7 linked regions of the Homo sapiens genome follow. The protein of the gene in region 1 interacts with the protein of each later gene in a pairwise test. Each region holds a gene or a part of one and is shown in the gene's direction. Other genes may lie near its edges.

What was found.
Region 2: the proteins of SVIL (region 1) and PPARG interact in a two-hybrid assay, tested with the Homo sapiens proteins (one study listed by BioGRID).
Region 3: the proteins of SVIL (region 1) and LUC7L2 interact in a two-hybrid assay, tested with the Homo sapiens proteins (one large-scale study listed by BioGRID and IntAct).
Region 4: the proteins of SVIL (region 1) and MRTFB interact in a two-hybrid assay, tested with the Homo sapiens proteins (one study listed by BioGRID).
Region 5: the proteins of SVIL (region 1) and MYBPC3 interact in a two-hybrid assay, tested with the Homo sapiens proteins (one study listed by IntAct).
Region 6: the proteins of SVIL (region 1) and PCNX3 interact in a two-hybrid assay, tested with the Homo sapiens proteins (one study listed by BioGRID).
Region 7: the proteins of SVIL (region 1) and TMEM132D interact in a two-hybrid assay, tested with the Homo sapiens proteins (one large-scale study listed by BioGRID).

What each region holds. Positions count from the first base shown.
Region 1 is NC_000010.11:29,624,400-29,629,322, reverse strand, and holds part of SVIL (supervillin), read left to right. Parts: intron 1-4,923.
Region 2 is NC_000003.12:12,374,647-12,379,569, forward strand, and holds part of PPARG (peroxisome proliferator-activated receptor gamma), read left to right. Parts: intron 1-4,923. UniProt on the Homo sapiens protein: Nuclear receptor that binds peroxisome proliferators such as hypolipidemic drugs and fatty acids.
Region 3 is NC_000007.14:139,418,611-139,421,948, forward strand, and holds part of LUC7L2 (putative RNA-binding protein Luc7-like 2), read left to right. Parts: intron 1-3,338. UniProt on the Homo sapiens protein: May bind to RNA via its Arg/Ser-rich domain.
Region 4 is NC_000016.10:14,262,783-14,268,160, forward strand, and holds the end of MRTFB (myocardin-related transcription factor B), read left to right. Parts: 3' UTR 1-3,991; downstream 3,992-5,378. UniProt on the Homo sapiens protein: Acts as a transcriptional coactivator of serum response factor (SRF). Required for skeletal myogenic differentiation.
Region 5 is NC_000011.10:47,335,703-47,339,520, reverse strand, and holds part of MYBPC3 (myosin-binding protein C, cardiac-type), read left to right. Parts: intron 1-116; coding exon 117-197; intron 198-841; coding exon 842-1,001; intron 1,002-1,726; coding exon 1,727-1,831; intron 1,832-1,941; coding exon 1,942-2,130; intron 2,131-3,509; coding exon 3,510-3,644; intron 3,645-3,818. UniProt on the Homo sapiens protein: Thick filament-associated protein located in the crossbridge region of vertebrate striated muscle a bands. In vitro it binds MHC, F-actin and native thin filaments, and modifies the activity of actin-activated myosin ATPase.
Region 6 is NC_000011.10:65,631,727-65,635,731, forward strand, and holds part of PCNX3 (pecanex-like protein 3), read left to right. Parts: intron 1-2,352; coding exon of another isoform or gene 2,353-2,399; coding exon 2,400-2,630; intron 2,631-2,811; coding exon 2,812-2,915; intron 2,916-3,246; coding exon 3,247-3,394; intron 3,395-3,491; coding exon 3,492-3,722; intron 3,723-3,802; coding exon 3,803-4,005.
Region 7 is NC_000012.12:129,697,233-129,702,155, reverse strand, and holds part of TMEM132D (transmembrane protein 132D precursor), read left to right. Parts: intron 1-1,457; coding exon 1,458-2,346; intron 2,347-4,923. UniProt on the Homo sapiens protein: Regulate neuronals morphology via inhibition of the WAVE regulatory complex (WCR), a complex that controls F-actin cytoskeletal dynamics.

The sequences.
Region 1 (4,923 bases):
GTGCGGGACTCGAAGGGGGCTTCCGAGGAGGAGAAGGAGTCTTTCAAGGCTCCTCTGTTCCTCTAGGCTTTTCATGCCACCCCTTCCCGCTCTCTACCTACACCATTCTCTCCCGTTTGTCTTATTTTCCACTCTGCTCTTCTCCTGGCTTCTCCTTGTGTTGAAAACATCCTCAGGTTTCATCCATTCTAAATAAAGCTCCCCTTGACCTCAAGCGATCACTTCTTTCTTTCCTGCCCACTCACTCCTCAGCACTGATCAGGAGCTCTTCTGTCTTCTCCTCTTGGACACCTTTCAAGACCTCCTGGTTACTTTGATGTCCCCGCAGCCTCCCTGGGATGGAACCCCTCTCCGTGAGAATCCCATCTCAGGTCTAGTGAGGGTGATGGGGCTCTGACCTCCATACTCAGCATCCACACCCTGCTGTGATCTTGAGGTCTCCTGGCGGCCTTATTTTAAAAATCATTTTCTGTCTCTTTGCTTGCTCAGCTTTCCTTCTTAAGGTCCATTTAAGATTTTTTAAAAAATCCTGGTGTTCCTCTTTATAAGGTGAATTGTTCAACATGTCCATTTCAGGTGGAATGCATTCATTTGGCTTTTAGAACTGATTTTCTGTTTGTAAGTAGAAATTAACTCCCAATTAGCTGTGTGAGAATTTGTATCCTCTGTATCTGCTATCAATAGAAAAGAACAATTCGGTTCTGGGCGAAGACCCAAAGGGCTTTTTATTAATAATGCACCTACGATTTGTGAACTGTGTTTAGGTTCATCAGAGGCCTCTCGTTTCTTTCTGGACTTTCAATTACGTTCTGAGCATGGAAAGTTGGCAAATAACTTAGGCTTGGATGGATAGATACAGTCATTGAATAGAAAAACCATATTGATATTTTTAGGTTTTTAAGATCTCACATACTTTAAATATTTCAAAATTTTAAGTAAATACTCTTTCATACATTCTGAAACATTATATCTAATTTATCTCAGCCAAAAATTTAAGACATATACATGTTGCAGTTGCACACCTGTTACTCCAAAACAAACAAACCGCTCCAGCCAAAACCCAAATGGGAAAGCACTTGATTTTCAGTAGCTTAAAATATGTTGAATTAAGAGGTAGGTTATGAAAGTGAAAATGACATCTGAATGTTTTAGTGGTTTTGGATATAAATTTTCTTAGGAATTTTTTGTTTGAGTTAAGCTGATAGTTTAGTTTACTGTGTGCTATGTTGGTTGCAAAATTCAGCTACATTTGTTTATTTTGCAATTAATTCAATTTGTTTGCAAATATTGCATCAGACATCTAAACCAGCTAATAACTCTATAGGTTTGAGCCAGGTTAGAAAAAAAGGCTTGGCTGTACCGTTAAGAAGCAGCTAGCTCTCTAAATTGTGCTGATAGTCTTAATTTCCCCCGGATGTTCATTTTAGCCACACACACATAACCATTTGGATTTATGATTTCATACATTTTTTATTGGAAGTGCTGAATATTTTAAAATTCTGTGATTAGATAAAATTGGTCATTGTGCTTCAGAATAGGGTGACTCAGCTTCATGGGATGTACTTTACCCAACACAGGATTCTCCCATTTGAGATGGAATTTATTAATTTGGATTTGTATCAGGTCTTCACTCCAGAGGCATCAGAGAGCTTTCAGGCAGCCAACTATTCTTAAATATTTCAAAAGGAAGTTGCAGTGGGCACGTGGCGTGGAGAACACAGCAGAGCAAAGTGATGTAGGGGCCATAACAGCCAACATGCTTTGTTTCCTTCATTCATTCACCTACCTCCCCAAAAGTCCAAAGAAGTGTTTTCCCTGCTCTCGGTGCAGGAGGAAGATTTTATCTGGAAATTGAAGGTGTCAATGGCCAGAGAAAGAAGGAGGAACATTGATTTTCATGAATAACCAGCTGTGTGACCTTGGGTAAATTCTTAACCTCTCTGAGCCTCAGTGGCCTCATTCATTCAAACAAGGGTTGGACTAGAGGATTTTTAAGACCCCTTTTACGTATTGGGATTCTGTAATCCAAAGGTTTCAGAGATCGAGAATAATCTGTCTTCCTTGGAAAGGCAACACCTTGTATCTGGAAGGTAGTAGTTCAAGGTGGGAGAGCAGGAACAAATTAGAAATGTGTTGAGAAAGAAGATCTTTTTTAAAAAGTCCTCTCACTGTCCTTGCTTGTTTCTGTTGAAATACACAGACTGTTTCTCCCTTCTCTGATGGCTTCATAATCATTCTTTGTCTTTGATTCTTATTATTTATTTTATTTTATTTTATTTTATTTTCATTTTATTTTTTTGAGATGGAGTCTCGCTCAGTCTCCCAGGCTGGAGCTCAGTGGCGCAATCTCGGCTCACTGCAAGCTCCGCCTCCCGGGTTCACACCATTCTCCTGCCTCAGCCTCCTGACTAGCTGGAACTACAGGCGCCCGCCACCACGCCCAGCTAACTTTTTGTATTTTTAGTAGAGACGGGGTTTCACCGTATTAGCCAGGATGGTCTTGATCTCCTGACCTCGTGATCCACCCGCCTCCGCTTCCCAACGTGCTAGGATTACAGGCCTGAGCCACCGCGCCCAGCCTGATTCTTTATTTTGGAAAGTTTCTGACACCTCTTTAAATTAAGCTCTCATAGTTTCTTTTGTGTTCATTTAAGTATGTCTATTTTCTTTTCTCTAACCTAATTTATTTTTATCTTCTTTTGGACATTTGTTTTTTCTCCTGATGTGAAACCCCAAAGTGGTCACAGCAGACTCGCTCAGGGATGCCTGAGACCGTCAGAATCTTCGTGTTCACAACAAGATGGGATGTGCTTGGCTTTCGTTTCCCTTTGAGTTTATTAGTTCACTGCCAGGTATTCATTTATTCTCAACAGTTGTTTTCTGAGCACTTACTGTGTGTCAGGGACTGGTATAGGTGTTGGGGAAAGAGCGGTGGGAAACAAAATTCCTGCCCTCGTAGCGTTTAAGTTCCAATGGAATGGTACTAAAGTACCCTGAGCGATTCTCTTGATCTTCAGCCCTACATCTGTTGTTCAAGTGCTTAGGTTAATAACAAAATGTAAAATACCTACCATGGTTTCACATAGTTATGTGTGTCTGATGTAGGGGCCATAACCGTGTGTGTGTGCCTTGAGAAAACTTAAGATCTACTTCTTGGCAAATTTTAAATATATAATACATTGTTAGCAACTATAGTCACCATGCTATACCTTAGGTTTCCAGAACTTACTCGTAACTACAAGTTTGCATCCTTTGACCAATGTCTTTCCAATTTCTCCTACCTCCAGCCCCTGGTTACCACCTTTCCATTTTGTTTCTGTGAGTTCAGCTTTTATATCAAAACATCATGCTGCACACCTTGAGTATATACAATTTGCATTTGTGAATTATACCTCAAAGCTGAAAAAAGACCCCAAAAAACCCGGCATGGTTCCTAACCAAAGGAGACACTTGTAAGGCTTTGTATCCTCCTACAGTTTGCATTTTGTATCTTCTGAAATTCTCTCTTCCCCTAGAATTCATACTGATAAAGCTTATACGCATTTCAAAATATATGTTTGAGGCTGGGCGTGGTGGCTCATGCCTGTAGTCCCAGCACTTTGGGAGGCCAAGGCGGGTGGATCACGAGATCAGGAGATCGAGACCATCCTGGATAACATGGTGAAACCTCGTCTCTACTAAAAATACAAAAAATTATCGGGCATGGTGGTGGGCACCTGTAGTCCCAGCTACTCGGGAGGCTGAGGCAGGAGAATGGCGTGAACCCAGGAGGCAGAGCTTGCAGTGAGCAGAGATCGCGCCGCTGCACTCCAGCCTGGGCAACAGAGTGAGACTCCGTCTCAAAAAAAAGGAAAAAAAATATATATATATGTATACTTGAGGCAAGTACAAGTCAAGTACCCATCTCTCTCTATTTTTAAAATTCATGCTTTCTCTGCTATCATAACATTCGGTCTATAAAACGTTGATTTCATTACCAAGGCAAAGGTTGATGTTGATATCAAGCAGGATGTTACAGAAATAAATCATTGGATCCACTTTACTTCTTTCTTACTTTCAGACTTTGTCTCAGAACTTTATTAAACTTAGCAAAAGTTAAAAAGAAAGGTAGTCTTAACTGAAGACTTTGAGATGATTTTAGAAGGAGTTTAGTAACATTGGATGAACTATTGTGTGTCACTAATCATGTCAGAGAATGTAACTTACAACTGAAACTTTGGAGTCTGTAATCTTTCTGTGTGTTTTTTTTTTCTTTTTAAGACGATTCACCTGGTCACTTCTATCACTGGGTGAAGCTGATTGTATATAAGCTAGATCTGCCTTCTGCCTACCTTTATGTTAGTACTATTTTTACGTTTAATTTTGCCCAAGTTGAAAGAGATTGCTTGGTTCATGGGGCCTTAAACATTTCAACATTTGTCCTTCACAAGATAATTATTTCATTAAAAGTAAATTACAATTTATTCAGTAGCTCTCCACATGAAAATAATAATCAGATGGTAAATGGATGCCCTAAGATATGTGGAGAACAAATTACCGTGGTATTTTAAAGGAGAGAGTTTTCTAAGCTAACTTTTATGCATGCAGCATCTCCCTGGCTAACATGAGCATTGATGATAATTTCTACCATTAATGAGCTCATTTTTTTTTTTAATGAGACTTTGTTTTTACTTTTAAAAAACAGTAACCTAAGGCAGGTGAAGTCAAATTGTTATTGCTGGGAAGTTGTGTTTCAAATGAGCACTGTAAATGATTTTGTTGAGCAGGCGTTTTTTGTTTTGTTTTGTTTTTGAGACGAAGTCTCACTCTGTCGCCCAGGCTGACATGATCGATCTCAGCTCACTGCAACCTCTGCCTCCCACATTCAGGTGATTCTTCTGCCTCAGCCTCCTGAGTAGCTGGGATTACAGGTGTGTGCCACCA
Region 2 (4,923 bases), on another chromosome or scaffold:
GCAAACCTTGATGTAAATCATGGACTTTAGGTGGTAATAATGTGTCAATATTGGTTCATCAGTTATAGCAGGTATACTACACTGTGCAAGGTGTTAGTAATAGGGGAAAACCATGCTTTGTAGAGAGGGGACAGGAGGCTGGGGAAGGGCTATTTTAAGAGCTCTGTACTTTCTGCTCAATTTTTATGTAACCCTAAAACTGCTCTCACAAAAGTAAAGGCTACTATGAAAAGCAAAACAAAACGAAAACAGAAAACAGCATCCTTTTAGCCATGAGATGTACTACAAGTACAGAGTTTTCTAGGAATTTCATATAATATTTTTAAAAATTACATGAACTTTTCCTTCTTTCCTTAACACATAGATGGCTATTTTCACATTAAAAATTTTCCCAAAATTTCCACAATGTAATACACGACCCCTAGGGATATGACTTTTGTAATAAGAAGCATGACTTTGGCTGGGCACAGTGGCTCACGCCTATATTCCCGGAAGTTTGGGAGGCTGAGCCAGGAGGACCACTTGAACGCAGGAGTTTGAGACCAGCCTGGGCAACACAGTGAGATGCTGTCTCTTTAAAAGTGAGGTTGGGGAGGTGGGAGAGAGAGAGAGAGAGAGAGAGAGGAAAGAAAGCAGCATGGCTGTGATTGATAGGAAGTCACTGAAATTGTATGTTAAAAATGAAACAAAGCAAAATTAAACCAGTAAAATCATGAGCAACCAATTTCTCTCCCACCCCAGATATTTGTGCATCCTTATTTTCATTTCCCAGTATTCATACAAAAGCATATCCACTACCTTTAACTCACTTTGTCAGCCTTTATTCTGTATGCAGAAAACTTTGCAATAGCATAGTGAGAAATAGGTGATAAACCCACCTTTGTGGATATTACAGTGTAGACAAGGGAAATATACTTTAATATGAAAATAAGTTATACTAAGAAAAGTAGATACAGAAATGAAAATTAAGCCTGCCAAGGAGACAGACAAAGTAAATGGAATGACCTGGGTTAGACAGGTTTGGACGAATTTTGAAACAAAGGACACAGTTGGATGGGTGCCCTGTCCTTAGGAGCACAGACTTTTTTCTGGATGTCATTGAGACCTAGAATGACCTTTAACTATCACCAGTACACATTCCCCTTTTTGGTGTGCAGTGTTGACACTGAAACACAGATAACTTAAGGTTGTTTGGGTACTTATTTATGTAGATAGACATGTGAACCCATACGGTACCTAATTAGTCCTCTTGAAACCACAAACGCGCATTCACAGGACCAGTCTTGTTTATATTTTCAAGGCTTTTTTTTTTTTTCTTTTGAGTTGGAGTTTCACTCTTGTTGCCCAGGCTGGAGTGCAGTGGCGTGATCTCAGCTCACCGCAACCTCTCTCTCCTGGGTTCAAGTGATTCTCCTGCCTCAGCTTCCCGAGTAGCTGGGATCACAGGCATGCACCACCATGACCAGCTAATTTTGTATTTTTAGCAGAGATGGGGTTTCTCCATGTTGATCAGGCTGGTCTCGAACTCCTGACCTCAGGTGATCCACCCTCTTTGGCCTCCCAAAGTGCTGGAATTACAGGTGTGAGCCACCGCACCCGGCCTCAGGGCATTTTTTCTTATGAAGATGACAGCCGAAATCTTCAATCTTCAACTCATGCAAAAGTTTGCCTTTGGAGTGAATTTCTTGGCAATCTGCTTGGTAAGAAAAAGCAAGTGGTGTTAAAGTGAGAGCATTAAAATAAAATTGCTCCAAAAAAATGATAAATAAATAAAAGAAAAGAAAAAGGAAAAGCAAGAGGCCCATGCACAGATACACAGAGGAGAGTGGCCCCTCCTCCATAAGCCTGTTTCATCAATGAGAGAATCAAGAGAGTATGTATATACAGAAGAGAGTTTCAGGGTCAGTCTTGAGTTTGCATCTTCTACTTCCTAGCTAGAGGACCTTGAACAATTCACTTTACTTCTTTGGTCCTAGCTTGCTTATCTATAAAGTGGGAATAATATTTCAGATTATGCAGAAGAAAAGGTAGGATGTACCGGGCACATGGGAAGTGCTTGATCAATACCAATTTGCTTCCCTCCTTCCCTGCCCCTTCTGCTGAAACTTCACAGCTATCTCATTAAGTCATCAATGTATTTAGTATTTAATAAATAAATATTTAACGAGCACCTACTATGAGACAAGCCCTTTGTTAGCCAGTGGGGATATGACTGCAAACAAGAAAGATACGCCTATGATTTGATGAATCCTGGAGTTTATGAGCAGCTCATCTCTGTCTCCCGTGTGAGCAGTCCTAAATTTACACAGCTCTCCACTGGTGTTTTTGACCACAGAGTTAACATTTAAAATACCTATGACTGCTTTTTTGGCACCACTTTGAATAATGAACTGGTGTCAGGTAAACAGAGTCCAGGTACCTATTGCAGAAAGTTTTCCAGTCTGCACCCTCGGTGGCTCACAAGTTCACATGAAGTGAACCAAAAGAGTTTTGTTGCACTTACTGTGACAATAAATCATGTTTAGAAAAATGCATGTGGCATACATGATATTGGGCAAATGATTCATGAAACTTGCTATTCTGTGGCCTTAGAATCCATGTAAGCATTTTTCCTTTGTCTTTTATGTGTTTTCTTGTTTCTATCTCTGTTTTGTTTTGTTTTTGTTTTGGGGATGGTTTAAAATTAATGCTGGGCTAGAGTCTGATTTTGACACTCTCGGGTGTGATCAAATGTTTCCACATATCTCTCTAACCTTTCTATTCTCAATGTGGGGAAAACTTTCTCCGCTTTAAGAAAAGGTGTATCCACAGAAAAGATTATTGAGTAATTTTTCATAGTACAGAAGTAATAATTGAGTGATTTTTCCCTTTAAAATTTTTTTATTTTTGTATTATTTTAAGAACAAAATTATTTTAGGATGCAATTAAAGAAGAAGTTCATTTACCTAAATTTAATTTGCCAACTTTTCTATTACACAAAAGCATTATAAATACAAGTAGAATAGCAAAAATTTCATCCTAAAGAGAAAAATATTTTGGGCTTCTAATTTCAAGAGAGTAAAATTGTCCTGGAACCCTGTGCACACTTTAAAAACAATCATTAACAGATTGCATCAAACTAGAAACTTCTTCACCACAAAGGAAATAATCAATAAAGTGAAAAGCCAGCCTACAGAATAGGGGAATCTGTACATCTGATATGAAGTTATGGATTGCAAATCGTACATCTGATATGGAATTAATATTCCAAAATATGTAAGAAACTCAACAAACTCAATTGCAAGAAAACAAATAACCCAGTTAAAAAATGATAAAGGAATATCCATTTCTAGAAAGAAGACATACAAGTGGCCAACAGATATATGAAAAGGTACTCACCATCACTAATCATCAGGGAAATGCAAATCAAAACCACGGTGAGATATCATCTCACACCCATTAGAATGGCTGTTATCAAAAACACAGAAGATAAGAAGTGTTGGCAAGGATGTGGATAAGAGGGAACCCTTGTACACTGTTGGCAGGAATGTAAATTGGTATAGTCATTATGGAAAACAGAATGGACTGCCTCAAAAAATTAAAAATAGAACTAGCATATGATCTAGCAATCCTACTTCTGGGTATATATCCAAGGGAAATGGAATCAGTATGTTGAAGAGCTATCTGCTCTCCCATGTTCACTGCAGCATTATTCGCAATAGCCAAGATATGAAATCAACCTAAGTGTCAATGGATGAATGGATTTTTGAAAACACAGTATATATCTGTATATATATACACACATACATATATACACATACAGATGTATATGTACACACCCAATAGAATATTATTCAGCCTTAAAAAGAGAAGGAAATCCTGTCATTTGCGACAACAGAGATGAACCTAGAGGACGTTATGCTAAGAGAATTAAACTGGGTGGTATTTGACACAGAAAGACAAATACCACATGATCCACGTGGAATCTAAAAAAGTCGAACTCATAAAAGCAGTGAGTAAAATGGTGGTTGCCAGGAGCTGGAGGGTGAGAGCAATGGGGAGATATCAGCCAGAGTTTCAGTTATGCAGGATAAGCTCTGGTCACCTTCTAAGGTGATCATCTGCTAAGTATAGGTCACCTTCAGCATGGTGACTATAGTTAGTGATACTGTATGGTATATTTGAAATTTGCTAAGACAGTAGATGTTAAGTGTTCTCACTACACATATTCATACTCAAAAAGGTAACTGTGAAGTGATGAATATGTTCATTACCTTGATTATGATAATCATTTCATAGTAAATACGTATATTAAAACATCACATTGAATACCTTAAGTGTTTTGTTTGTTTTTTGGTTTTTTGGGTTTTTTTGTTTTGTTTTGGTTTAGGTTTTTTTTGAGGTGGAGTCTTGCTCTGTCACCCAGGCTGGAGTGCAGTGGTGTGATCTCACCTTACTGCTACCTCTGCCTCCCAGGTTCAAGTGATTCTCCTGTCTCAGTCTCCCAAGTAGCTGGGATTACAGGCGTGCTACCACACCCGGCCAATTTTTGTATTTTTAGTAGAGATGAGGTTTCACCATGTTGGCCAGGCTGGTCTCGAACTCCTGACCTCAGGTGATCCTCCTGCCTCCGCCTCCCAAAGTGCTGGGATTACAGGTGTGAGCCACTGTGCCTGGCCTGTATACCTTAAGTTTAAAAATTTTTGTCTATTATACTCAATAAAGCTGGACAAAATTTTAAATAAATAACAGCAGTCATTAACAGACTCAATTGATGACCTAATGTAGAAGTTAATGAGAGCAGGCCTGTTGGCAAAAAGGCATTTATATGGATACACTGTATGTATCTGCACTGTTTCAGGATCCTCTATTATGATACCTGGGTAAAGGGTGACTTCCTTTCTATCATAAAACAGCCTAGACAGCACTAAGAAGGTGGTTATG
Region 3 (3,338 bases), on another chromosome or scaffold:
TTTTGACTCAACTTTCCATTCCCTGAAATCACTCACAAGCTGAGTTTGTTAATAGGCTCTCAATATTTTATTTCTTATATTCTGGCCTTGTTTTTAGTATTTCTTAAGGTGATTTTAATAATAATTAATTGTATATGTTTTACTGTACTAGACTTAGTAAAACATAAGAAAGACGTATAACATAGTTGAACAACTTTAAGTTGCTCTAAGAAGTTTCCTATGTGAGGCTGGGTGCCATGGCTCACGCTTATAATCCCAGCACTTTGGGAGACCGAGATGGGCGTATCACTTGAGATCAGGAGTTCAAGACCAGCCTGGCCAACCAACCCCATCTCTACTAAAATACAAACATTAGCCGGGCATGGTGGCACATGCCTGTAATCCCAGCTACTCAGGAGGCTGAGGAAGGAGAATTGCTTGAACACAAAGGTGGAGGTTGCAGTGAGCCAAGATCGCACCACTGCACTCCAGCCTGGGTGACAGAGCGAGACTCCAGCTCTCAAAACAAAAAAAAACAAACAAAAAAAAAAACAAAAAGTCTCCTATGTGAGTTAGAACAAAGGATTGACATCTTTGACAATAATTAGACTGGCATAAGACTACCACATGTTATAAAGTGCTAAACTGCATATCATAGAATAAATGATCCGAGAGTTTAGATGAGGCAAATAACAGAGTAATCAAAAATGGCTTCAGGTAGTCGGTAAAATTTGAACAGGTAGAATCAGCTAGGAAAAAGATATTCCATATAGAGTGAATATCCTAGGCAAATGCAGAGAATGAGGAGGGAGTTTGTAAAGGACAGAGTGATTTGTAGGCCTCTTATCTCACACTCTTGAAACTGATTTTGGGGGTCTACCCTCAGTGCAGTGTTCAGAAATAAGCATTTTTTAAAAGTTACCTGTCTTATCTGCACAATGAATTTTCAGAATTATCCTGCTAGGTGATGGAAGGTTTAGACATTTTCCTGTGTCAAATCTGCCCAACTGTCATTGTTGTTGCTGAACTCCTAAATGTCTTTATTGGTGATGGGTATGGGAAGGATGGGCGTGAAGTCCCCTAATCTGAGATTGTGTTATTTTAGTCCCTGATGCTTCCTGCGTTGATGAAGTTGTATAGGAATTTTTCCACCATACATGATACATGATCATATCTAAGATGTCAGCATGTTCATAAAGAGGATTATTTTTGTAAAACTATTAAAAGTTTTGCTTTTCTCGAGCACTTTCTCATCTTTGAATTCAAATTATTCTCTTTTAAAGCATCATTCTTTGTTTTATACTAAAAATTACCAGATAATTGCTGTTAAAACCTACTTGGTATTTCATACAACATCAAGTTATTGCTACATATTTGGGTTTAATTTTTCAAGGTAAAAGTTCTTATTGAAAGCCTTTTATGTTTTGCTGTTCTCCTTTCCCTACTGTGAAATACTTGTCTCTGATACAAGTAGATTCTTTGTGACCTCTTCCTGGCAATAGTGCCCTGCGTAAATGAGGACCATTTGCATCTATCTATCTTTTTGCTCTGTTCAAACATGTTTAGTGCAGACTCCAAAGTCAGATTACTTGGGTTCATTGGTTTAGGCTAAGTAATTTATTTTTTTTTTTGAGACGAGAGTCTCGTTCTGTCACCCAGGCTGGAGGGCAGTGGCGCGATCTCGGCTCGTTGCAACCTCTGCCTTGCGGGTTCAAGCGATTCTTTTGCCTCGGCCTCCCAAGTAGCTGGGATTACAGGCCCAGGCCACCACACCTGGCTATTTTTGTATTTTTAGTAGGGACAGGGTTACGCCATGTTGGCCGGGCTGGTCTCAAACTCCCGACCTCAGGTGATCCACCTGCCTTGGCCTCCCAAAATGCTGGGATTACAGGCATGAGCCACCACGTCCCACCTTGGCTAAGTAATTTATAACTATCTCACCTGTCTTTCCCCATCTACTAAGTGGAGAAAGTAAGAATACCTGCTTTGTTAAGATTATTGGTAGTTTGAGTAAAATAGTATATGGAAACCACTATGTGTGGGACATAGTAGTTGATACTCATAGTTTTTTAGTTATTACTGATCACTGGGACTGTTTGGCATCTAGTGTCTTTTTAGGTATCATTTTTACCATCTCTTTTCATATTTTATTCCAACAAAGGCTATGGATAGGACTAGTGTAGACGTGGAATCACTAGACTTGGCACTGTGATTTTTTGTTGTTGTTGAGATGGAGTCTTGCTCTGTCACCCAGGCTGGAGTGCAGTAATGCGATCTGGGCTCACTGCAGCCTCCGCCTCCCAGGTTCAAGTGATTCTCCTGCCTCAGCCTCCCGAGTAGCTGGGACTACAGGCACACGCCACCACTCTCAGCTAATTTTTTGTATTTTAAGTAGAGACGGGGGTTTCACTATGTTGGCTAGGCTGGTCTTGAACTCCTGACCTCAAGTGATCTGCCTGCCTTGGCCTCCCAAAGTGCTGGGATTACAGGCGTGAGTCACCGTGCCCAGTCTTTTTATATCATTTTAAGTTTATTAAAACATTAAGTAGAATGTTCAAAGTGGACATTATTTTAGAACCATTTTTTGTTTAACCCTCCTTAACTATATTTCTAAAACTGAACAGTCATATTTTTTATTTTCCTGAAAGTATTACTTATTCAGGTTCTTGGTAGTGCCTCAGATCCTAATTTTGAATATGGGTTGAGTGAGATAATTATGTAAAAGTGCTGTGTCACCTGTAAAGAACCAAATAAATGTAATTTGTTGAATTTTAGATGTTGGAAGTATGGAAGATTCCATGTTTATTCTGATTCCATAATATGTTTGGTTTTCCGATTGATTTATTATTTACCTTTCTTATAATGAAGTTGGGTATGGGAATGGAGAAGGTAGTAAACAGTTATGGCTAATCAAGATTTATTAGTGTGAGCATCTTTGTCTTTTTTTATTTCCCCTTGTTGGTTGAATAAGCTAACTCAGTATGAGTAGATTTTTAGAAGTGGTTATTTAAATTCATATTAATAATTGAGTAGTTCTCTTATCTAAGTCAGGTGTTGGCAAACTGTTGCCGATAGGCCAAATCTGGCCGGTAGCCTGTACAACCAGCAAGCTATGGATGGTTTTTACATTCTAAAAAGAAAAGAACTGCCACAAAGATTGCATGGACCTGCAGTACCCCAGATAGTCACCATCTGGCCCCTATTCTAAGCCATTTAAAATTTAGATAATACATTTCTTTCACTTTTTAAAGCTGTTATCTATGTATTATTTTTTATATTAAAATACCTTTTATGAATTGGAGAAACTCTGTGTTGTCTCTGAGATGAGAGTAGCCTGTAAGAAATTATTTTAGCCTTCT
Region 4 (5,378 bases), on another chromosome or scaffold:
AATGTAAATAACAAAAAACTGAAATCTACCAAAAGAGCATGGAGATTTTTCTTAAATAATAATATTGTGCTCTCCACCTCACCCTTGTGTAAACCCTCAGGTCAGGTTGGTTCCCCTGGGTCACAAAATGGTAAATGTTCCATACTGACATGCCGGAGGCAGCCTGACCCGTTATTTGGAAAGAATTTGTGAATTATTTCTGGGTTTGTGTTTTGCCTAAGAGCTGATCTTATTTCTGATTTGTGTGTGTGTGGTTTATAAATTTTACTACGTGTAACAAAAGTCTGCTTTTCCAGCATGAGCACACTGGAGCCCTCTGCTCACTGGCACTTCCTGACTCAAAGGCACTAACAGTGCTCATGTGCCTTCCAGACGGTTCAAGGCAGAGGCCACTGTGCTCAGTGTAGTCTGTGATGAATAGTTTAAGTGTTCAGAAATTGGTAAACCAACACACGGGATACAATAACTCTCTGTTAACCAGAACACCGTCATTTGACCAAGCCCTACAAGAGTTTACCACACTAGATGTTCTGTGAATCCTCGAGTCAGTTCCATTGAGAGGGGCCTGTCTCCAGGGCCAGGCTATTTACTTGGGAAAGTATTTTTCTTACAGTTCTTGGCCACAGTTTTTTTGCTGAGGGTTTCTGTCTGGGCCTATCAGGTCCATACTTAGACCCTGAGCATCTTCTTCATTCAGATTTGAATGGCTTATTAAATTAGCACCAAATATCAGTGGGACTGTAGAAGGTAACCGAACACTAGTACCATTGACTCTCGTTGAATAACTTTATATTTCCATAATCCTGAATTGTGTAGATAGTTTTCTAGCTCTCGGGTCCCTTTATTGCTTTTTAAAATAGGGTTTGAAACATGCCACAGGAAGGTTGCTCTCCAAAAATACACAGTGCAGTGCAAGAAAATGCTATCTCATTGGCCTACTCTCCTATGAATTGCTAAAGTGCCCACTTCACATATGTGTTTAAACCTTTATAAACCAGTATTTCACTTTTAAAAAGACAAGGCATCTCTACCCATTAACTCTGCAAGCCACTCCACTTGCACCATTCCGCTTGACCCTCCTCTCTCCTGGCTTGGGTCACCAGCCAGGCACCTGTGACACGAGTGCTGCTCTCCAGGATCTCCACTACATGTTCCAGGTTGGAGTGAGGACGCGCTATGTGCTCACACTCATGTGACATGACCAAAGATGATACTCTGTAAACAAGGCCCTTCTGACCGGACTCAGTGCGTGTGATGGTGAGTGCAATGAGGAAGGGTGGATATTGACTAAAGACTGGTTGTTGTTGTTGTTTAGGTTAGTGTCACAGCCATTACAGCACAAGTCAAAGTCGCCAGTTGAATTTTCATTATGCACGTGTGTGGTTTAAGCAGTGGTACTGTTGTATATCATATTGTAAAGTATCATACTGCCAAGAAAATAACTCCTAGAAAGGCATTATCTCACATCCCCATCTTACTTTCCTACATGTTCTCAAAACACAGTAGTACCAGCCTTACCTTTCTGCTGTATGTAGATAGTCAGATCATCCTACTGGGGGTGGGATGAATTTAAAAGTTATACCAAAATTTCTGTAAAGTCTTTGAAAGTCTAGGAGTAGGTGGTCATCTTGTACATTTCAGCAAAGCATCCACTAGGAAACCTCATAGGACAGTGTTAGTGGTTCACGTTCTAGTGTTTTTCCTGAAATGTGCAATCTACTGTATAGTATTGCCACATAATTGTACATAGATGTATTCTGAATTTGTGGAATTTCTTGCTTAGATACTATTGTGTTTGTTTCATATGAATATTTTTGTAATTCTAAAAGAGATCTTATTTAAATTTCCTTTTTAAAAGCCGCATGGTTCTGTGATCCATGTAACTGACACTTTTTGGCTTTCAGTGCTGTTTAGAAACAGTGGCAAAGGCAGGGTGGTGCTGCCTGCAAGCTGCTGCCTATGGAAGGCAAAGTCATAGTAATGAGATAGCACCTCTGAACTGTGCAGTCAGCATACCCTGAGTGATGGCTCAGGGGCGCACTACCTATTTTGTCACCAGAGCTGACTCAGGCTTCCTGGACCCTCAACCCCAGATCATTCCAGGCAGCATAGCTTTCTTCACAGTCCTTTCAGAATTCCCAGGCTGAAATCAGCCATAGCAGTTGACAAAACAGCTATCCCCACAAGTGATGAGATAGTCCCTTTACTGTCCTCAAATGGACTTGGCCTTAGAGACGTGGTAAAGCACTTTGGCAGGGTTTAAAATATTTGTGAGAAGCCCACATTTCAGTATACATCCTCACTGGCTTCCATGCACCCACCTGACGGTAGCCTCACAGAAGTCCTGGCTGTCACTCAGGTGGGGAGCTCATGGTGCCGCTGGGGACTTTTTAGAGAAATGTAAAGAGAATAGCTATTCAGTGTCTACTAGCAGAGCAACATGTGTCAATTTAACCAAATTCACAAATAACCCTCCATTTTTCAATATCTGCTACTGTAAACATGAATATTGAATACTGACAAGAGAATACCCATACAAATCGTCCCACCGCCCTAGAGGCCACAGAATTAGCCCAAAATTATCAAAGAACATTAACTGGAAGGTCAGGTTTTTCAAGGAACATAGCTTACAAATGCATCAGTGTGTATCTGGAGAGCATCCTAACTGCATTTCAACTCATCTTTTAAGTGATTTCAGTCAAAACTGGAAAACAACTAAGATGTAGTAATTTTTTTTTCCTGGTTCAAACCTTCAATAACTTGCTCATTCAGCAGTCTCTCTGAGCTACATTTTTATTTGTAAAGTGACTCTGTCTGCATGGCAATGAGCAGGTGCGTGTTTTTTCCACATTCGCCCTTTCTTGCAGTATCCAGGGAAACACATCATTACAAAGGGTTTCTACCTGAAATCTTTCATGGAAGGCCTACAATTCGAAAAGCTGCACATGTTTACAGAAGAGCTCTTACCCTCCATGCAAACACTTTGCTCTGTGGTGTCACAGCTTTGTGACAATAAGATGGCAATCTCGGATCTACAAGGTGCTGTCGGGAATCAAATAAAATATGTTATCAGAGATATCATCACATCTATAGTGTTTAACAGAGCTTTATGCCAACTACTAAGACAAAGCTTTAACAAAGTTTATAGAATACTGAAACTCGTAACAATTACCTCTCTACGTGATGCTGTAAGGAATCTTGCTAATTTGGTAGGAAGAGGAAGCATTTAGGAAAGGGTTTAGTATCTACCAAAAGTACTTGACCTCAAGTAACCAATAGTAATGCAAACTTGCTTTAAAGGAACCAAAGGCATTGCCAAGTATTTGCCAAAAGGAGGCACTTTTTATTTAAAATTTGAGACTAATGAGATCTCAAAAATCAGCCCCAAAAAGGTATTATCCATTTAAGGTTATAATTTTCACTAAGATGTAGATATTTCTCTTATTGTTTTCATGTAAAATAGTATAGAGTTGTTTTGTTGGTTTAAGAGTAACATTCAGTAGTAATACAAAGTTTTTTTTCTATGTAGAAATTAGTTTTCTTTTCTTGCTTGCAATAGAAATGCAATGTGATAGGTGTTTCTCTTCTTATTTTCATTGTCACATTATGTCTTAGCATCTCACTTTATGAAAAAAAGGAGAAAGATACCAATCTACAGAGCCCTGCTTGTTGAAGCACTAGTTTAATCAACAAAAAATTATGGCAATCGGGGGTCCATTCATCTATTGCCTTTATGTTGTTTTTTAAAAGAAAAACCATGATGCCTTTGTATTTGCTGTTTGCACCCCTGAAATCAATTCCATATCATGTTTGAATGCCATACATTTTGCACATGTACTGTACATAAGTAATGCATACTGTATTTTTATATGTGTGCACATTTATCATCAGATCTTTTGTACATAGTGGCAGTATTGTAGCTGATCGGGAAATGTTTGATATCTCAGCAATTTTGCATTTTTGTGTCTCAAATAAAAGACATTTTGATGTACTATGATTCTTGCTGTGCAGAGGAAAGACCACTCCCTATGGGTTGGTGGAGCCATTGTAGACTGTGGAACGGGAGTGGATTTATTAGGAGGAGACACTATACCTTTAGCATACAACTCACAACAGAAAGCCAGCAGGCCAAGCCTGTGAACTTGTCACCCTCCCCTGGATCCAAGACCATGAGATACAAAATAGAAACTCACAGGTACGAGCTGAACTTGAATATGTCAAGATTTACACAAAGTGAGTTTCTTTCTTCCACAATGAAAGTTAGAAATATGTAGTTCTCCCTAGGGGGTTGATTTTCACACTCGGCGCGCACACACGCACAATGAAAACTGACTCAATAACATCAATGCACCACCACCACAATTCCTGAAAGACCCACATAATCCTTCAATCTAGCCAAGTTTCAAAAGCAACTATTTATATGAGGTATTTTTATAGACTGTACAAAATGGTCTTTAGAATTCAGTATGCTTTTAGTAAGATGGCATTTCATTTCAACTCAGAAGCCAACATTTAAAACAGAGTTTGGTTAAAATTTTTTTTCTCTTTGCTTTGAAGAAACAAAATAGTAATGAGTAAACTCTAATAACTATACCATATATCAATATTTGATTAAGAAAAAAGGCCCGAGTATCAACCACAGAAAAGGGGAAAAGAAAGATATTGATTACCAAAACACAGCAAAATGTTCATTACACTTAGGGAACCAGAGTGCAGCCTCAACAGACCAGTGAGATGATGCGCAAAGGGTTAAACCATTCATAAAGTATCATATGTTCCAGGCAGAGATCCTGCCCTTGGGGAGAAAATAGACCTCCCTGCTGGTCTGAGAGAAAACTTTGCCAAAGGAAGCATTGCACGTGCCCTGGGAGCCCAAGAGGAGTGAGCAAGGGATGTCACAGGAAACTCTGGGGAAGCTGTCATGGCAGACAGCCCCTTGGGCAAGGTCAGAATTAATTGGAGAAATTGTTTTTTCCTGCAACAGATTTTTTTTTATTTATTAGTTTTGTTGTTTTTTGAGACAGAGTCTCACTCAGTCACCGAGGCTGGAGTGTGGTGGCACAATCTCGGCTCACTGCAACCCTCTGCTGCCTGGGTTCAAGTGATTCTCCTGCCTCAGCCTCAGCCTCCCAAGTAGCTGGGACTACAGGCACGTGCCACCATGCCTGGCCAATTTTTATATTTTTTTAGTAGCTTTGGGGTTTCACCATGTTAGCCAGGCTGGTCTCGAACTCCTGACCTCAGGTGATCCACCCACCTCAGCCTCTCAAAGCACAGGGATCACAGGTGTGAGCCACTGCACCTGGCCAAGTATTACTTCTAATTTAACTTTCAGAAAGAAGTCTCATATTGATGTCCTGTCTTTTCTGTTAATATGC
Region 5 (3,818 bases), on another chromosome or scaffold:
GTCAGGGGGCAGGCAAGGTGGGCAGTGTGGGTCAGGGGGTGGAAGAAGCAGCAGAGGGGCGCTTCCAGGCTGAGTCAGCTCCTCTGCTCCCTACTTCCCTCCTGCCCTGTTCCCAGGGGAATAAGGCCCCAGCCAGGCCAGCCCCAGATGCCCCAGAGGACACAGGTGACAGCGATGAGTGGGTGTTTGACAAGAAGGTGAGTGAGACTGAGGTCAGGAGGAGGCTCGTTTGTCTTTCATCACTTTCTACCTACGTGGTGCCGAGCCCTTGGCGAGGTCTCCATGGAGGTGCCACACTTGGCCGGGTGTGTTGCTGCCCCCAGCAGGGTCCCTGTGGGGCCCTCACACCTCAGGCAGAGGGTCTCTGTGAAGTGTGCTGATGGCCATCACAAGGATGTGGACACCCTCTCATTGCCAGGAAGCCCTCATGACTGGGCTGCTCCCTGGCTCCCTTCATCCTAAGCTGACCTTGACCTTGACCTTGTGCTCCCTCTCAACTCAGGAGTAGTTTCTGAGACACTTTTCTGCCAGTGTAGCTGCCGGGGTCTTGCTCCTGCCTGGCACTGTTGGTTCTTCTGAAGGCTGGGGTCTTGAGGGGTCCTCATGATAGCTCATCTGAGAGGACAGGTGGTTGCCCCAGGTCCCGTGACAAAGCTAGAACCCGAGCCCCTGCCCTCAGTCGGTGCCACAGAGATGATTTTGAACTAGATGCTGACGTGGATGCAGTCTTCCCACAGGCTGTGTTCCCCCCATGGACCCCCGGGACATCTGGCTGTTGGCGGAGGCTGCAAGGGCCTCTGGGGTCTGACTTGGATCTCACCCCAACTCTGCACCCCCCCAGCTGCTGTGTGAGACCGAGGGCCGGGTCCGCGTGGAGACCACCAAGGACCGCAGCATCTTCACGGTCGAGGGGGCAGAGAAGGAAGATGAGGGCGTCTACACGGTCACAGTGAAGAACCCTGTGGGCGAGGACCAGGTCAACCTCACAGTCAAGGTCATCGGTGAGGCCGGCCGGGGTCCAAGCTGGAGAACACAGAGGGGCAGCCCCAAGGAGGGCCCATCCGTTCGCTCATTCAGCCACTCGACAAACATCACGGGCATGCTCCCTGAGCCGAGCGGCAACAGGACAGGTTTTTCTGCCCAAAAGGAGCCCCGCTCTGGGGGAGATGGAGGCAGATGCATCCAGCAGATTTCCTGCGACACTGCTGTACATGAGCCATGTCCAGAGTGCCGTGGGAGCACTGAGCAGAGAGCCATCCCTGTGCCTGGGGGTGATGCCTTTAGGAGGCTGAGAAGATGGTGAGGAAAGGCATCCCAGGCAGAGGAAACTGTGTACAAAGGGGTGGAGGAGGGAAAGGGCCTTTTGGGTGTGGAGAATGAATGAAACATGTCAGGAGAGGACTGGGTGGGGTTGGGAGGATCAGAGCCAGGACAGGGGTGAATATGGGCAGTGAGAAGCCTTAAAGGGTTGACGGAGGGCTGGCGACATGATCAGAAATGCATCCTGTTGAGACCCAGCCTGGACAACACAGTGAGACTCCATATCACTAAAAAAAAAAAAAAAAAAAGGAAAAGAAGAAAGAAATGCATTCTAGAAAGATCTCTTTGGATCTGGGGGTGGTGGGGGCAGCCTGTGGCGGTTAGTTGGAGTGGGAAGGGGACGAGCAACGTTACTCAAGGCCCTGAGCGGGGCAGGGCTGATGTGGGTCCATCCCACCCCATCCAGACGTGCCAGACGCACCTGCGGCCCCCAAGATCAGCAACGTGGGAGAGGACTCCTGCACAGTACAGTGGGAGCCGCCTGCCTACGATGGCGGGCAGCCCATCCTGGGTGAGTGCAAGGGCACCGGATGGAGGTGTGAGGGCGCCAAACAGATCCGAGGGAAGGTGGTGTGGGGATGCCTGGGTTCCAGACCAGAGCTGCCACCTCCCCTGAGCCAGGCTACATCCTGGAGCGCAAGAAGAAGAAGAGCTACCGGTGGATGCGGCTGAACTTCGACCTGATTCAGGAGCTGAGTCATGAAGCGCGGCGCATGATCGAGGGCGTGGTGTACGAGATGCGCGTCTACGCGGTCAACGCCATCGGCATGTCCAGGCCCAGCCCTGCCTCCCAGCCCTTCATGCCTATCGGTGAGCCTGCCTGGCCTGGTCCTGCCCCCCGCCCCCTCCCCAGTTAAAAACCTCCAATAATAGCAGGTGCTCTGCAGGCAGCCATGCTAGACACTCACATCCACAGTCTCCTTTCATCCTCGACTGGGGATACTCAGCCGCATTTTACAGATGAGGAAACAGGCTCCAAGCAGTTAAATGACCTGCTTGAGATCTCCCAGCTGGTTGGGGTGGAGCTGACTCTCACACTACGCCGACCCCTAGTTCACGTTTCAAGCCTCTCTTTCCATGTCTACAAAATGGGAATAATGACACTGCCTATCTCAGAGAGCTGTTAGGATGATATGGGATGACCAGGCAGGCCATCTGGCATCTAACAGGTGCTCAATAAATGTTCATTGTCCCCTGTTCTCCACACCCTTCAACCCAGGGTTTTCACCTATGGGATGGGGCAAGGGCTGTAGTTAGTGGAGGGGTCTCAGGGGCATCTGTCTGTGGAAAGAGTCCTGGACCAAGACTCAGAGATGGCAGAGGCAGCTCCATGGTCCCCGGGGGGCCAACTGGAGTCATCCCTCCCTGAAGCCTCAGCTTCCTCATCTGTATAATGGGGTCTGAGTGGGCAGAACAGGTGTTGAGACTGTGGCAGGGCTCAGGAGGACACCTGTTCCCACTAGGGTGGGTGAGTCCGGGGGCAGCTGCCTGTGGCAAGGGCAGGCCAAGGACCCCTGGGCCCAGGGATGGGGCACAGCTTGGGAAGATGGCAGGAATCGGGGCCTGTGGGGAGAAGGGTCCAGGCCTCTCGTTTTAGGGACTGATTCCTGGTTTGTTCAGTTCTTAGTCAACTCACCTAATCATACGTGCCAGGAAATTCCCATGTTTTCTGTAGTTTTAGTTTTAGTTTTTTTTTTTTTTTTTTTTTTTTGAGATGGAGTCTCGCTCTGTCACCCAGACTGGAGTGCAGTCCTGGCGCGATCTGGGGTCACTGTAACCTTCACCTCCCAGGTTCAAGCAATTCTCCCACCTCAGCCTTCTGAGTAGCTGGGATTACAGGCATCCACCACCATGCCCAGCTAATTTTTGTATTTTTGTAGAGACGGAGTTTCACCATGTTGGCCAGGCTGGTCTTGAACTCCTGACCTCAGGTGATCCTCCCACCTCGGCCTCCCAAAGTGCTGGGATTACAGGCGTGAGCCACCGTGCCTGGCTGCTGTTGCTGTTTGTTTTTAAGCCAATCTACAGACATGTCTTGTAACAGGGACAAAATATTCCTTAAAGTGGCCAAAAGCCAGCTGAACAGGAAGTGCCCCCTATGTGACCAGTGGGCAGTTCAGAGTCTAGGGCATGGATCTCCAGCTTCCCCAGGCTTGCTCAGACCCCTCTCTGACCTCTCCTCTGCCCAGGTCCCCCCAGCGAACCCACCCACCTGGCAGTAGAGGACGTCTCTGACACCACGGTCTCCCTCAAGTGGCGGCCCCCAGAGCGCGTGGGAGCAGGAGGCCTGGATGGCTACAGCGTGGAGTACTGCCCAGAGGGCTGTGAGTGTCCCCGCCCCCAACCCCCCTCCCCAAAGGAAGAACATGCTCACCTTGCCATTGAGCAGATTCACCTGTAGTCAAGTTTTTTAGGCCCACTTTTGCCGAAAGTTGAGGACACCCAGAGAAATATCTGTCCTGTTTTCAGAAGTAAAAAAGCTTGCCTAGTGAAAAACA
Region 6 (4,005 bases), on another chromosome or scaffold:
ATCACAGTGCAGGCTCCCACGTGCCTTCTTAGGATCTACCCTGGTGCTCCCTATGTTGGGCTCGGTGGGTGGCCTACTGGGGCCCAGGTGAGCCTGCCACCTAGGTTCTCTCTGGAGTAGTTTCACGAGGCCCTGGCTGTCCTTCTCCAAAGGAAATCCTGTCCACACCACATATCAGAGGAGCTGTCATTTGTCATTCCTTCTGCCCTCCCAGCCACTCCTAGGCAAGGATTTGTGAGACCACCCCCCTTTCATCAAGAAGGAGGCTGTGTCTAGAGAGGGACATTCCCAGTCCCAGGTCACCGAGAGGTCATGGCCTGGTCCACCTTCCGGTCCCATCTTGAGAGAGGTGCCCTTGCCCAGGTTGCCCTGCTGTGCCTGCTAGGCTAGGGCCAGCAGGTTGAGATGCACCTGGCCAGGTCTCTTGTCCCATGGGGAAGCTGACTGGCCACATCTAAGGCTGCCTCAAAGGCTGGGCAGAATTTGAGTCTGGAGGAAGTGCTTGGAGGACCTGGGGTGGCTCCGCTGAGGATGTGGACTGAGGGTGAAGCTTGGAAGGACAAGTCAGGGCTGCCAGGGGTGGGGCGGGGGGAGGCGGGTGTGCTGGGGAGCCTGGTGCATCTGGGGAAGTGTCCCAGCTGCAGGGATAGGTCCTTTCCAGCCTTCGAGGTTGGCCAGTCGAGGCGGAGCCCCTCCCGTTAGCTTTGCCCTTCCCGTGGGAGTTACTGGGCTCTCAGACCTGCTTCTGCAGCTGGGAAGGGCTACAAGAGCAGGAAAAGGCACCGTGGCTTGAGGCTGCACGGAGTCTGGGCAGTGCTTCCCGGGAAGTACCTTGGGCAGAGCCCAGCTCGCAGTGAGCGCTCACAGGCGGAGCGGCTGCTGGTATTGCCCCCCGTCTTCATTTTCTTCCTAAGATGACCGTGAGTGTTGTGTCAGAGAAAAGGATGGCACTGGTGAAGGTTAACCAAGCACCTGATATGTGCCAGGCCAGCTCCTCTCCCGGTCCCTGAAGCTTTTCTTTTTTTTATTTTTTTTTGAAACAAGGTCTCATTCTGTCACCCAGGCTGGAGTGCAGTGGTGCCATCTGGGTTCACTGCAGTGTCCACCTCCCAGGTTCAAGTAATCCTCCTACCTCAGCCTCCCAGGTAGCTGGGACTACAGGCATGCACCACCATGCCTGGCTAATTTTTGTATTTTTTGTAGAGATGGGGTTTCGCCATGTTGTCCAGGCTGGTCTTGAACTCCTGGGTTCAAGCGATCCTCCCACCTCCACCTCCCGAAGTTCTGGGATTACAGGTGTGAGCCACCCTGTCTGGCTGAAGCTTTTCTTTTCTGGGTCTTTTTAGCAGCTCTGGTGGTGCCTGGATTGTAGAGGCGAGCTATGGGCAAGAAAGTCAGTCTGGAGCGGGTCTGCCCTGGCAAAGGGCCTGCCCCATTAGCTCCATCTTAGGGTGGCACATGGAATCCCCATCACCTCACTGGCTGCCCTGCCGGCCTTAACCCGCCCGTGCATCCTGGCCATGCCAGCTACCTGTCTTCCAAAGCTCCTGTACTTTTGCCCAACAGGGCCTTTTAACAAGAGGTCCAGGAGCCCCCAGCTTTGGGTACCACATGTGCCCGTGGCTTTTTTCTGAGGCGAGGCCTGATGGCTGTCATGCTTCAGCTGCCTAAAGGGACCTGTGACCCAGGCACTCTGAGGCAGGCCCACTACTTCAGCCTGCCCTTCCGGCCCCGAGATCTGGATCCCACAATGTCATGATGGGGAAGGTCCGGGGTTCAGGCGGCAGTTCAGTCTGTTCTGCCCCACTCGCTCCCCGCCCCCTGCCCATGTGACATCTGGATGCTCCCGCGCTCGGGGTTATGTTTGTGCAGGAACACCAGCTCCTGCTGCTACCTGGCCCACGTGCTGCACAGGCACTGAAGGTTCACCTGAGGGCCACACCATAGTGTCGGGGCCAGCCAGAGGCGGGTGGGGGACAGGGTTCAGGGCAGGTGGGGCCAGCTCCACCTTGATGACTTGGAAGCTGAGGTGGTAAATGTTGAGTGTGATGATCTTGTTCTCGTTGGGGGCTGCCATTTGTTTGAGCCTCAATTTCTCATACAAACGGGGCATATTCTAGGGCAGAGGCAGGCAGATGCTGCTTGTGAGTGCTAGCCCCAGCACAGGACTTCCTGCTCTGTAAGTGGGTGCTTCCTGGCGGCTTTGTCACTCCTCCCTGGTCTAGGGGAAGGAGCCAACTTGCTTGGTTGCTCTTGAGAGCTGAGATGGCTCTAGGAGCGGGGCATCCCAGAAAGCGGACTTCAGCTCAGTCTTGGGGAGGAGCCTCTGAACCTCCATGCTTTCTCCTCCAGTGGCCAGGGCCGGGACCCCGGCCTGACGCCTGCCCCTCCTCTCCCAGAGCATCATCTACTACGTGAGCCGCTCACCAAAGCTGGAGGTGTGGCTCAGCCATGAGGGCATCACGGCAGCCCTGAGGCCTGTGCGGGTGCCCGGCTATGCCGACTCGGATCCCACCTTCTCGCTGAGTGTGGATGAGGACTATGACCTCCGCCTGTCTGGCCTCTCGCTGCCCTCCTTTTGTGCTGTGCACCTCGAGTGGATCCAGTACTGCGCCTCCCGGCGCAGCCAGGTCAGGCTCCACTACCTGAGGCTGCCACCTGGGGCTGTGGGACCTGGGCTTCCCTGCTCCCCTTCTCCCCATTTGGTTTCCTCTCACTCTGAGCCTCCCTTAGCCTGAGCCCCAGCCCCCACTCCAAGGTCCCTGTCCCAGGTCTGAGCTGGGCTCTGGGATGGGGGTCCTTATGCCACAGCCCGTGGACCAGGATTGGAACTCCCCGCTGGTCACGCTGTGTTTTGGCCTGTGTGTGCTGGGCCGCCGGGCCCTGGGGACAGCCTCTCACAGCATGTCTGCAAGGTGAGTGCTCGGGTGTCCCGCGGGGCCTACTGCCGTCCCCACCCCACCTCTTCCACGAAGAGCACTGTGGTCTCTGGCCACAGTGGCCACAGAAACTGCAGTGGCCCTTCCTGTTGGGGTACCTCTTCTCCCACGGGCAGGGCACTTCCTGGTCATGACCTTGCCTGCTCCTCAGTGCTCTGTGAGAGACATGGGCAGAGATTGGCCTCTTTGTCAAGATGGGGAAACTGAGGCTCAGCGTGAGGAAAGGCCTCTGCTTGGATCACTCTGAAGCCTTACCCCTGGGTCCTCGACACCCCTCTCTCCCCTCCCTGTTTTTCCTCCCACTTAGCCTGGAGCCCTTCCTCTACGGCCTGCACGCCCTGTTCAAGGGGGATTTTCGCATCACCTCCCCACGTGACGAGTGGGTCTTTGCCGACATGGACCTGCTTCACCGCGTTGTGGCGCCTGGGGTTCGCATGGCCCTCAAGCTTCACCAGGTTGGGGAGGGGTGTGCCCAGCAGCATGGGCAGGTGGGGGATGAAGCCTCTCTCCAGGGCAGGGGCCACTGACCCCTGTTCCCGTCTTCTCTACCAGGACCACTTCACGTCCCCAGATGAATATGAGGAGCCAGCAGCCCTATACGATGCCATTGCGGCCAACGAGGAGCGGCTGGTCATCTCACATGAGGGTGACCCAGCATGGCGCAGCGCCATCCTCAGCAACACGCCCTCCCTGCTGGCGCTGCGCCATGTCCTGGATGATGCCTCCGACGAGTACAAGATCATCATGCTCAACCGGCGCCACCTCAGCTTCCGAGTCATCAAGGTTGGGCCGGCCCCACCTGCCCTAAGCCCTGCCCCAAACCCCCTTGGGCCGGCCCCCTGACCCTGGCGTGTGGCTCTCAGGTGAACCGGGAGTGCGTGCGCGGCCTGTGGGCCGGGCAGCAGCAGGAGCTGGTGTTCCTGCGCAACCGCAACCCCGAGCGTGGCAGCATCCAGAACGCCAAGCAGGCGCTTCGCAACATGATCAACTCCTCCTGTGACCAGCCGCTGGGCTACCCCATCTACGTGTCGCCTCTCACCACCTCGCTGGCTGGCAGCCACCCCCA
Region 7 (4,923 bases), on another chromosome or scaffold:
ATCCAGGGCTTTCTGTAAACTCGGGTTGAATACATGCGTTGAACTTCTTGTCTAGAAGTTAAACTGGATGCAGCCTGACACCCTGTGTTATCACAGCTGGGCTGAGGCTACAGTGCTGCAGTCAGCCCCCTCATGCTACCAATGGGTCCATGGGAAACAACGAGGGTCAGTGACCTGCTCATCGTCTCACAAAGCCGGGAGCAGGACCCCTGCCTCCGAGCTCTTGGCTCTCTCAGCTGCTGGCGGATGACTGCCAAGAAGGGTCCTGACTCGGGAAGGCATCAGGCTTCCAGATGTGTGTTTGCGTGGGCCTTTGAGAAAGGTGGAGCCATGAGTGTCCGAGTAATCAAAGATAATTACATGGTGACTGACGAGAAGGGCTTCAGCATAACTTGTGGAGCTTTGCCTAGAAAGTCAGTGTTCCCAGCCAATAGTTTACATTTCTAAAACTCCTTAAATTGGTTCTTTGGATTATGCAATTGCTCTGCCTGCATTTTTCTTACAGAATGTAAGGCAACTTGTGAAAATAACATTTTGGATTTTTCTCCCCCTGAGGGAGAGATACGTTCAGTGCGGAAAAATGAACAATGGATTTTGTTCGTTGGTGACGGCGTAGTGTCCACAGGATGTGGCTGGCATGGAAGCGAGGTGCTGCCCTTCCCGTGCTTCTTAGGTTCAGGGTCCAGTGTTTCATAGATGACTTGGAGCATTGCTTTGTACGCCCGGCCCTGACACATTGGTGTCGTGGTCACCTCATCTCATCTATTTCTAGAGGGCCCCTCCCAATATATCCTTCCAAGGTATTTTCTCTGCATCTCTCCCCTTAACTCCAACTGGGGGCGGGTGTCCACTGTCCATGTGATTTATGATTGTGCATCTGCGTCTATTTTTGCCCCAAGTCTGTTAGCATTTCCCATTGGACATGTGCGTATATGCAGAACGTGCATATGAGTGGAACACAAAGGAATATGTATCAGGTGGAATGTGGACGTGGCATCAATCCATGTGTTGAGGAAGTCATTCCTGTTTCCAATCTCAGTCTGTGTTGAGTCAATGGGACGGTGCCTCTCTGTCGATGGTAGCTTGTCTGTGACAGCTTTCTAACACTTGCTAATCTCTCCTTTGATCAAAAAAAGAGCAAGTCTTTACCATAACCCCATAAAAACACCATTATCACGAGTGGAAATTTTAAAACTGTATTTGAATTGTATTTATTTGCATGCTCAACTTTTTTATAGGTTAAATGATACTGGTTTTCTACTTAGGTTGGTGGCATTTATTTCTTCTGAAACAAATAATATGAAGCGAGTAGATTGGATTAAGAGGTTTGGATAAGGAATTGCATAATTGGCGCGAAGACAGGGTCCTCTGTTATGAAGGGGGCACGCAGATGTCTGAAATGCTGGTAACAGGACCTTAGCATTACTAACGCCTGCACTGCGATTCCCTCCCCACAGTGACGGAAGGTCGAGGGATCCTTGAGAGCATCCAGAGGTTTTCCTTGCTGCCCACCTACCTCCCCGTGACCTACCACATCAACAACGCGGACGTCTCCTTCTTCCTGAAGGAGGCCAACCAGGATATCATGAGGAACTCCAGCCTGCAGTCCCGGGTGGAGTCATTTCTGATTTACAAATCCAGGAGGCTGCCTGTCCTCAATGCCAGCTACGGGCCTTTCTCCATCGAGCAAGTGGTGCCCCAGGATTTAATGCTACCTTCCAACCCATTTGGATTCACCAACAAATTTTCTCTTAACTGGAAACTAAAAGCCCACATCCTGCGGGACAAAGTCTACCTGAGCCGGCCCAAAGTGCAGGTTCTGTTCCACATCATGGGCAGAGACTGGGACGACCGCAGCGCCGGGGAGAAGCTGCCGTGCCTGAGGGTCTTTGCTTTCCGAGAGACCCGAGAGGTGCGGGGCAGCTGCCGGCTGCAGGGGGACCTGGGGCTGTGCGTGGCCGAGCTGGAGCTCCTGTCCAGCTGGTTCAGCCCCCCCACGGTGGTTGCCGGGAGGAGGAAGTCCGTGGACCAGCCGGAGGGGACCCCCGTGGAGCTCTACTACACCGTGCACCCAGGGGGTGAGAGAGGGGACTGCGTCAGGGAAGACGCGAGGAGAAGCAATGGGATCCGGACAGGCCACAGTGACATCGATGAGTCCGGGCCCCCCTTGCAGAGGATCGGGAGCATCTTCCTTTATCAGACACACAGGAAACCCTCCCTGAGAGAACTGCGTCTGGACAACAGCGTGGCCATCCACTATATACCAAAGACCGTGAGGAAAGGAGACGTGCTGACTTTTCCTGTTTCCATCTCCAGAAATTCCACTGAAGATCGCTTCACGTTGAGGTAAGTCGTTTCCCAATGTCTGTCTGTACCCGCCCGTCGATCAGGTGGTGTTTTCCAGAAGCTGTTTGACCAGAAAAGCTGTGTTATCGCTCACCGAAGTAGAGCCGGCCTTCCCGTTCTTACAAACTCCATCTGCACCGTGGAATACAGAGACCAGTCTGATCGTTCCGGGTTGGCAATTGGGTTGTGAGAATATTCGTCTTAATAGATTTTCCAAGCCATTGATAGGGCAGCCGGGGGGCTGCTGATGGTACGCCTTTTCCCTTAGCTTAGGGTATTATCAGCAAGTTTTGGGAATGCTAAAATTATCCAAGAAGGCTTTTCAAAATTGGGAGAGTTAAATGCCTCACAGCTGAAATGAGACTGCAAATGAAATGGCAACAGTTGTCAGAAAGGACAGGGAACACGGTTTTGCCAACTCAAAATCTATTCCAGATATGTAAGTTCTAAGTATAATATGGTACCAACCTCAAAGTTACCATTTTGTTTCTCCCTGGAAATAGAACTTAGTGTTCAAAAAAATAAATGAGCATAACGTGTGAAGAATATACAGTAGAATTTGTTGAGTTTCTTATATAAGAATATACCAAAGAGAAGACATTGAAAATAAGCTCTGTGTACTTTAGAATAAATATAGGCTGGTTTTCACTGTGGAATATAACGTATGAGAGAAGCTACTTGCCTAGGCTTGTTTGTATTTTCATTATATAGTTTTAGTTTTATTTTCAACACAGGCAAGTTTGATTACAACAGCTGTTTAGTAGAAGTGTTTTTGGGTTATTAAAAATGTCCTAGCACTGCTACATAACTCAACAATTTGACCTGATGTGCAATGTAATAAAATGTGTGTTATGACTCCTGAAATGAGGAGTGTAACTGTATGTAAGACATGTTTCATATGTGGGCTTATAAACTTCATCCAATGATGACCAGCTCTCTATCCCCCTTCATATGGGATTTATGGCTGCTTTTTCTAGCTTTTCTTTTCTTCTTTTCTTTTTTCTATTCTTTTCTTTCTCCCTCTCTTTCTCCCTCTCTCTTTCTCCCTCCCCTCTCCTCTTCCCCCTCCCCTCCCTTCTCCCCTCTCCCCTCCCCTTTCCTCCCCTTTCTCCTCCCCCTCCCCTCCCCATCTCCTCCCCCTCCCCTCCCCTCCCCCTCCCCCTCCCCTCCCCTCTCCCCTCCCCTCCATGCCGTCTCCCCTCCCCTCCCTCCCCTCCCCCCTCCCCTCTCCCCTCCCTTCTCCCCTCCCTTCTCCCCTCCCCTCCCCTCCCTTCCCCTCTCCCCTCCCCTTTTTTCCTTTATGTTTAAAGGGTGGATGAGTTTAAGAAAATAAATCACCGTTTTGATTCTACCTTGCACATTTAAGTTTATTTGATTGTGACCTAGTATTAGAAATGCCTATTTTAACTAAAGAAACAGAACCTAATGGACATGCATCTAATGACTGAACTTGGCTAAGTCCTGGAAGGTAAAAACCTTTGGCCTGGCTGGACGTGCCATTCGCGGAATAGCCGCAGGGATTTAGGGTACAGGAACACATCTGCGCTGGCCAAGCCTTCATTAGCGTTCCCTTCCGTCCTTCTGGAAATCGGATCTAGATCCAGCTGGCCACAGGTCCTCAATGAGGTCTGCTAGCTTTGTGTTTTACTTTTCTGGGTTCAACAGTCTTACATAGTATTCTTTGTGAGGATGGCTGCTTACGTAGAGAAATATTTTGGTGGTGGAAACAAAAAGTTTGAATAGGGGAGCTTTGATCTTACACCGTTTCATACCGTCTGCCATTTTTTAGGTCCGCCAACGACTGACTTGATTTTCTGAACGCAGGATTAAACACTGCAATCCCCTGAAGCTTTGACTCTCAGGAGATGAGAGCCACATGCAGCTTGTGTGTGTGTGTGTGTGTGTGTAAGCAGTGATGTGTGTAGCACTGAATTTCACAAAAAGCTTTGTGTCTCATGACTTTATGACACACTAAACATATCCATTAGGGTCCAAGGGTGGCTTTTATCTTTGGCAGTCTGTAACAAAACCAAGAGAAATTCACTATGTGTGGCTGCACAATATGAGGCTCCAAGTCTTGGCAAATTCACAAGCAAATGCATTTGAAGCTTCTAAATTTGGTGGCTCCACTCACAGGTCAAAGTTTGGAAAATTTGAGAAGTACAGCAAAAGTATATTTGTTCAGAGCCCATCAATTAGAAATGTCAATTCAATTTGAAAAATCAGTTTTACAGATGAGACAACAATGAAGGAAATGTTTCATGAATGTCTGTTTACCTCGGTACGATGCTACACTGTTTCTTTAAGAGGTTGCATTAATAATGTGCTTGCTGCATACTTAAAACGCTCTGATTATGGATGAGTCTCATGTGTTTATGTAAACAGCTGGAGGTTAACTTGGACCTGGCAAGATTATTATCCTTTAGCTTGAATCCCTATAATTAGAAAATAATAAAACTGTATATCTTTTTAAATGAAGTCAATTTGACACTAATTTAGCATAGCTTCCAAATATTTAGAATTGGTGTGCGTCTGTTCTCTCTGGCCATCTGCTATAAATAACCCTCAAGGATCCAG